Homo sapiens: one gene and its partner. The protein of the gene in region 2 purifies or fractionates together with the protein of the main gene of each other region. This does not show direct contact. Each region holds a gene or a part of one and is shown on either strand. Other genes may lie near its edges.

Region 1 (3,418 bases), on a different chromosome or scaffold from region 2:
CTTTTTTTTTTTTTTTTTTTTTTGAGATGGAGTCTCGCTCTGTCACCCAGGCTGGAGTGCAATGGCGCCATCTCGGCTCACTGCAACCCCACCTTTCGAGTTCAATCGATTCTCCTGCCTCAGCCTCCCAAGTAGCTGGATCTACAGGTGCGTGCCACCACGCCCAGCTAATTTTGTATTTTAAGTAGAGATGGGGTTTCACCATGTTGTCCAGGCTGGTCTCGAACTCCTGACCTCAAGTGATCCACCTGCCTAGGCCTCCCAAAGTGCTGAGATTCCAGGCATGAGCCACTGCACCCAGCCTGCATCTGATTTATCTTTGAAACATCCAGGGACTAATAGAGTTCCTGAGACATGCAGGGCAAGTGTTCAGTGCAGATTTGCTGAATACATGAGTGTGTGGGTGGGTGACAGAACCACAATACAAAATGCTGCTCACCCAACCAGGAAGTCCACCCCCATCAGCCCCACCTCCAAGCCTCACCTTCCACAGGAGCAGCACCAGCAGTGCTAGCACCAGCAGCCCAGCCAGTACAGCCAGGAGGATGACCCACCAGGGCACTCCTTCTGCCACCACAGCCATGGGGTCCAAGTATACCATCACTGGGATCTGGGGAGCAAGGGGTCAATGGAGCAAGAGGTCAATGGAACAAGAACTGGAGGGAGCAGGAAAGAAGAGAGTCCTCCCCACCTATCCCCCAACCCTGCAGCTCACCACTGTGGAGGCATCTCGGAGCATCAAGTTCTTTATGGAGGACTTCACTGTGATGTTGGCCCGGACAATCACTTCCAGGGACTTCACAGCTGAGTACTCCTAAGGGAACAGGGAAGGAGACCCTTCTCCTAAATGCCCCATGTCTCCCTCCCTTCCCCTTACCTCCTGAAATTATAAATGTAATGGTGCCCAACACAGAGGATGTTTCTGCCTGGTTTGGGTTAAGAGTATGCTGCGTTTGGGCTGGGCACAGTGGCTCACACCTGTAATCCCAGCACTTTGGGAGGCCAAGGAGGGTGGATCACCTGAGGTCAGGAGTTTGAGATCAGCCTGGCCAACATGGCAAAACCCCGTCTCTATGAAAAATACAAAAATATCGGGTGTGGTGGCACGTGCCTGTAATCTCAGCTACTCAGGAGGCTGAGGCAGGAGAACCTCTTGAACCTGGGAGGCAGAGGTTGCAGTGAGCTGAGATCGCACCACTGCACTCCAGCCTGGGGGACAAAGGAAGACTCCGTCTCAAAAAAAAAAAAAAGGGGGGGGATGCTGCATTTGGACAGTGAGGAAGGAGGAGGAGAAATGAGTCCTGGAGGGGCTTTGGAGGAAGAAGAAACACAGACTAGAGCCGAGTGGTATCCTCACCTCCAGAAAGGTGCTGTTCCAGAGACGGCCCCAGACATGCAGCACAGCCGCGCGGTCAAAGCTGTAGAGTGGGCAGCTGAACACCACACAGTTGGCCGTGCCCCGGGCGCAGTCCTAGGGATAAGGACAGACAGGGGTCTAAGCCACTCAGCTCAACCCTGCTGAGACTGCCATCTCTCCCATTTTCCTTACTTGACCTCAAACTCCCCTCCTCCAGGAAGTCTTCTCAAACTAATCTTATATCCAAAATAGCTGCCTGCCCCAAATCTGAGCTATTCAGCTTTGAAATGCGTGGAGGGGGCAGCATGGAAGGGAATCTCTTACTTGACAGCACAGGCAGAGTAGCTTCCCCAAGTGATGCTTATGTTACCTAATGACAGTCCCATTTATTGAGCACCTACTACTTGTCAGGCACTTATCTCACTTAAGCTTCGCAATAGTCCTACAAGGTGCACATTATCATCCTCATTTTTCAAAGGAAGAAACTGAGGAGGCCCAAGGAGGCCAAGCGACCTGCCTCAGGTCACAGCACTAGCAAAGCTAATGAGTGGTGGAGCAAATATTTGAACTCAGGTCCATATTCGGCAAAGCCACACCCCTGCCCTAAACCCAAACTCGCTGAAGGAGGAGGAGGTAGCCTCAGGAGCTCCTGGGTAGACAGGGGACTCAGGCTCTGTTCTTTCCAGGACTGACCTAAATCCATTTGGCCCAATCACCACCTCACGACCCATTTGCCTGAAAGTTATGTTATATTCATCACACCACGATCCAGACACAGAAGAATGGCTTTAAGAGTGTCTGAATTATTTGAGTTATCTTTTATTTTGCCACTTTTGAGCCATTCAAGAATCCTTAGCCAAGCTGTCTAAAAGCAAGGCCTTCTGCCTTTTTAGTAAAAGAATCTACTTTAGTACTAGTACCAAAACAGAGATATAGATCAATGGAACAGAACAGAGCCCTCAGAAATAACGCCACATATCTACAACTATCTGATCTTTGACAAACCTGAGAAAAACAACCAGTGGGGAAAGGATTCCCTATTTAATAAATGGTGCTGGGAAAACTGGCTAGCCATATGTAGAAAGCTGAAACTGGATCCCTTCCTAACACCTTATACAAAAATTAATTCAAGATAGATTAAAGACTTAAATGTTAGACATAAACCATAAAAACCCTAGAAGAAAACCTAGGAATTACCATTCAGGACATAGGCATGGGCAAGGACTTCATGTCTAAAACACCAAAAGCAATGGCAACAAAAGCCAAAATTGACAAATGGGATCTAATTAAACTAAAGAGCTTCTGCACAGCAAAAGAAACTATCATCGGAGTGAACAGGCAACCTACAAAATGGGAGAAAATTTTCGCAACCTACTCATCTGACAAAGGGCTAATATCCAGAATCTACAATGAACTCAAACAAATTTACAAGAACAAAACAAACAACCCCATCAAAAAGTGGGCAAAGGACATGAACAGATACTTCTCAAAAGAAGACATTTATGCAGCCAAAAAACACATGAAAAAATGCTCACCATCACTGGCCATCAGAGAAATGCAAATCAAAACCACAATGAGATATCATCTCACACCAGTTAGAATGGCAATCATTAAAAAGTCAGGAAACAACAGGTGCTGGAGAGGATGTGGAGAAATAGGAACACTTTTACACTGTTGGTGGGACTGTAAACTAGTTCAAACCTTGTGGAAGTCAGTGTGGCGATTCCTCAGGGATCTAGAACTAGAAATACCATTTGACCCAGCCATCCCATTACTGGGTATATACCCAAAGGACTATAAATCATGCTGCTATAAAGACACATGCACACGTATGTTTATTGCGGCACTATTCACAATAGCAAAGACTTGGAACCAACCCAAATGTCCAACAATGATAGACTGGATTAAGAAAATGTGGCACATATACACCATGGAATACTATGCAGCCATAAAAAATGATGAGTTCATGTCCTTTGTAGGGACATGGATGAAATTGGAAATCATTCTCACTAAACTATCACAAGAACAAAAAACCAAACACCGCATATTCTCACTCATAGG
Region 2 (3,157 bases):
GGCTGTCCTCTTCCTCGAGCTCTGCTTTATTCTTCCAGATCAGGGTTGCCAGATAAAATACAGGATGCCCAGTTACAGTTGAATGTCAGATAAACAGCAAGTACTATTTCAGCATAAGTCAGTCTCAAATGTTGCATGAGACATAATGTACTAAAAAAAAAAATGCTCATTGTTTACCTGAAATTCAAATTTAACTGGGAGCCCTGTACTTTTATTTACTAAATCTGGCAACTCTACCCCAGATGTCTGTGAGGTTAAGTGGGGCCAGGCCTACAGCTGACGGAAGGACAGAGAGAGAGGTGGCAGGGACTGCTGGCCTCCTGAGGCAGAGCTGTCCCAGGTCTGGTGGGGCTATGATTCCAGAGAGGCCAGAGACTGAGTATGAAAGTGGCAGGCGGCTGGGTCTGAGGAGATGCCAAGTTGGCCTCTTGAGGGAAATAAACAGGTATATTTAGCTGTTGTGGCCTTGCGCCCTGAGGCCAGGAAGCAGCTTTTTAGCCTAAATCCAGATGTTAAAAACAGAAATGAAATCAGTATTTATGGCCCCAAACCCTCCAAGCAAGTCATGCAGCTCGTTCCCCTGTCAAGGCCTCCCACCTTTGGCCCACACAGGGCCTGACCCTCGTCTAAGCCTGCGCCCTGGGGAACGGACCCTGGGGGTGGAGGTGGTGGGTCAGGCCCTGCTCTCACTTTCACACCCGCTTCCTAGCCCTGAAACCAGAGAGGTTCCTGAAGTCCAGCCCAGCCAGGCCTGTGGGGCTGCTGAGAGGGGTTAAGTAAGAGGGAGAGTAAAAACCGACACTTGGGAGGAGGCTTTTAAAATAAACATCTGCGGGGAGGGATGCTCTCAAGGAGGCTGCGGTTTGCAGCTCAGCCAGCTGTGTTCCAGCTAATCAGCCTCCTTGGGCTACTCTGGAGTTGCTGCCTTGGCCCTGGGATGGGGTAGGTTAAGAGGACAGAGGGAGGTCAGGGAGCTGGGGGCTGAGTTTCCCTGAGTAGAGGCTGGCACAGGAGAGAAGGCATCACCCCCACCTCGTCCAGGCCAGAAGATGTCCAGCTTCTTGAGGCTCTCCTAAGTCTGCCTCTCCTGGGACCAAGAGAAAATCCCGGTCCTTGACCAAGGTGGGCCTTGGGGGGAGTGGGGTGTAGAGGGAGGGGCACTGGAGAACTGACTCTACAGAAAGTCAAAGCTGGCAATCCAACTTCTTCCCCTCAGATTTATAGATGGGAAAACAGGCTTGAGCCACGCAGAGACTTGACCAAGCTCACACAGTTCCTTAGTGGCAGAGCAGAGCAAATATTCTCTTTCTTTTACATTCTGGATTTCCATATCTTCTCTCCCTCCTGGTCCAGCCCAACCTCAGGGCACCCCCCACGAGGTGGGCGGGGGATGGCTTTGTCACTTGCACCCACTCGGGGTGCTACTCAGAGATCTTGGGTGCACATAGGACGTGGGTGGGCCGAGCTTCTAGCTACTCCGTCAGGCCCTTCCTGTCATTCTGTCTCTGCCTCCCTTCTCCCTGCTTCTCCGTGTTCCTCCTCATTCTTTTCTGTGTGCAGGGAGACTACACCCCCCACCCCGCTCTTTCTCTGGCGCCTCTGAGGTCCCCCCTCTAGCCCCTAAATCACTCTGGAATCCTGGCTCTTTGAAGCCAGATCTGGGCCCCCCTCCCCTACCCCTTCCATTCCCAGGCTGGGAAAGGCTGAAGAGGCTGACGGCTGGAGGGGAGGGGGCGGGGCGGTGGCGGATCTGGCTTCCTTTTGGAGTTAATTAGGGAAAACAGAGAAATGTCAGCGGAATGAAAGGGCTGGGGGTGGGGGCCAGCTGGGGTAGGAGAGGAGGAAGTGGGCAGCTGCTCCCTCCCACTCAACCCCTCTCCCCCGCCCCCAGAAAGCTCTCAGCTCCGGGGATTTGCGACATGAAATGGGGGCTGTAGAAACCTGAGCGCTGGTGCGTGAAGAGAAAAACCGAGGCGCATCCCGGCTCTCCCCTCCCGTGTGCCCTCCTCCTCTTATGCCGGCTTGAAAATATTTCCTGTCTCTCTATTTCTCAATCCCTGGTTGATGTCCCAGGATTACTCAGCCTCTCCGGCTTTAGTCACTCTCGCTACCCGCTCCCAGGGTCCAGGGTGGAGGCAGAGGGAGGCTGGGAGAGAAGCTCTACTGCCAGCTGGGCCTGGGCTGGCCTGGGCATCCCTGAGGTTTTAACTGTCTCCTAACCACAGAGGATCTCAGGGCCTCCAGCAGCGAGCCCCAATGAGTCAAACTCTTGTTTCCTCCTCTCCCACCCCCGACCCAGTCAGGGCAGGTGAGGGGTAGAGGTGATGGCATGCTGGATGTGACGGTGTTGATGATGTATTGCACAGGATGAAGCACCATCTCATTTAGTCCTCACAGCAGCCTTCACAGTGCGTACAAATCAGCTGGCAATTCCGAGAGGCTGCATTCTAAACAAGTTCCTGGGTGATGCTGAGCCAGGGCCAGAGTGTGGACTTCTCTGGGCCCCAGTTTCTTCTTCTGTACAGTGGGACGTTGGACTGGAGGTGCTGTCTGATGTCACCTAGCTGTGGCACTCTGAGCCTGTGCCTAAAGTGTCCCTGAGATGTCTAGTCCCCGAGATCATCATCTCCTCAGCTTCATAGAGCCGAGCTCTTCTCCATCTTCTCTCTACCTCCCATTCACTCAGAACAGGGATAAGGTCCAAGCTGCTGGTGGTGATGGTGACTGACTGTCCCTTCCAGCATGCGCTTAGGTACACTTGGGCCTGAATGCCCCTCTAACAAATGCTACCGGGTATGGCCTTGGTCCTTCTAACACTTGGTTCCCTCATCTGTAAAATGAGGGTCATACCACATAGCTGGCTGGGCTGTTATGTAGAGGTTAAAAGTGATTGTGCATGTGAAGCATCCAGCAGAGTGCCTGGCACACAGTAGGTGCTCAAATGCTGTTTTGAAATACAAAAATTAGCTGGGCTAGTGGTGTGCACCTGTAATCTCAGCTACTCAGGAGGTTGAGGCAGGAGAATCACTTGAGCCCAGGAGGCAGAGGTTGCAGTGAGCCGGGATCGCGCCACTGCACTCCAGGCTGGGCGACAGAGCAGGACTCCATCTTAAAAAAAAAAAAAAAAAAATGCTGTTTTGAAATGGAGGCTTGGAAG

Evidence for each region. Proteins that work in one complex are often made in the same cells at the same time.
Region 1: the proteins of PCDHGA5 (region 2) and ITGA7 purify together in Homo sapiens (affinity purification with mass spectrometry; 2 studies listed by BioGRID and IntAct, with this or other methods). This does not show direct contact.

Annotation. Positions count from the first base shown.
Region 1 is NC_000012.12:55,687,487-55,690,904, forward strand, and holds part of ITGA7 (integrin alpha-7 isoform 2 precursor), read right to left. Parts: intron 1,472-3,418; coding exon 1,358-1,471; intron 815-1,357; coding exon 716-814; intron 611-715; coding exon 485-610; intron 1-484. UniProt on the Homo sapiens protein: Integrin alpha-7/beta-1 is the primary laminin receptor on skeletal myoblasts and adult myofibers.
Region 2 is NC_000005.10:141,507,162-141,510,318, forward strand, and holds part of PCDHGA5 (protocadherin gamma-A5 isoform 1 precursor), read left to right. Parts: intron 1-3,157. UniProt on the Homo sapiens protein: Potential calcium-dependent cell-adhesion protein. May be involved in the establishment and maintenance of specific neuronal connections in the brain.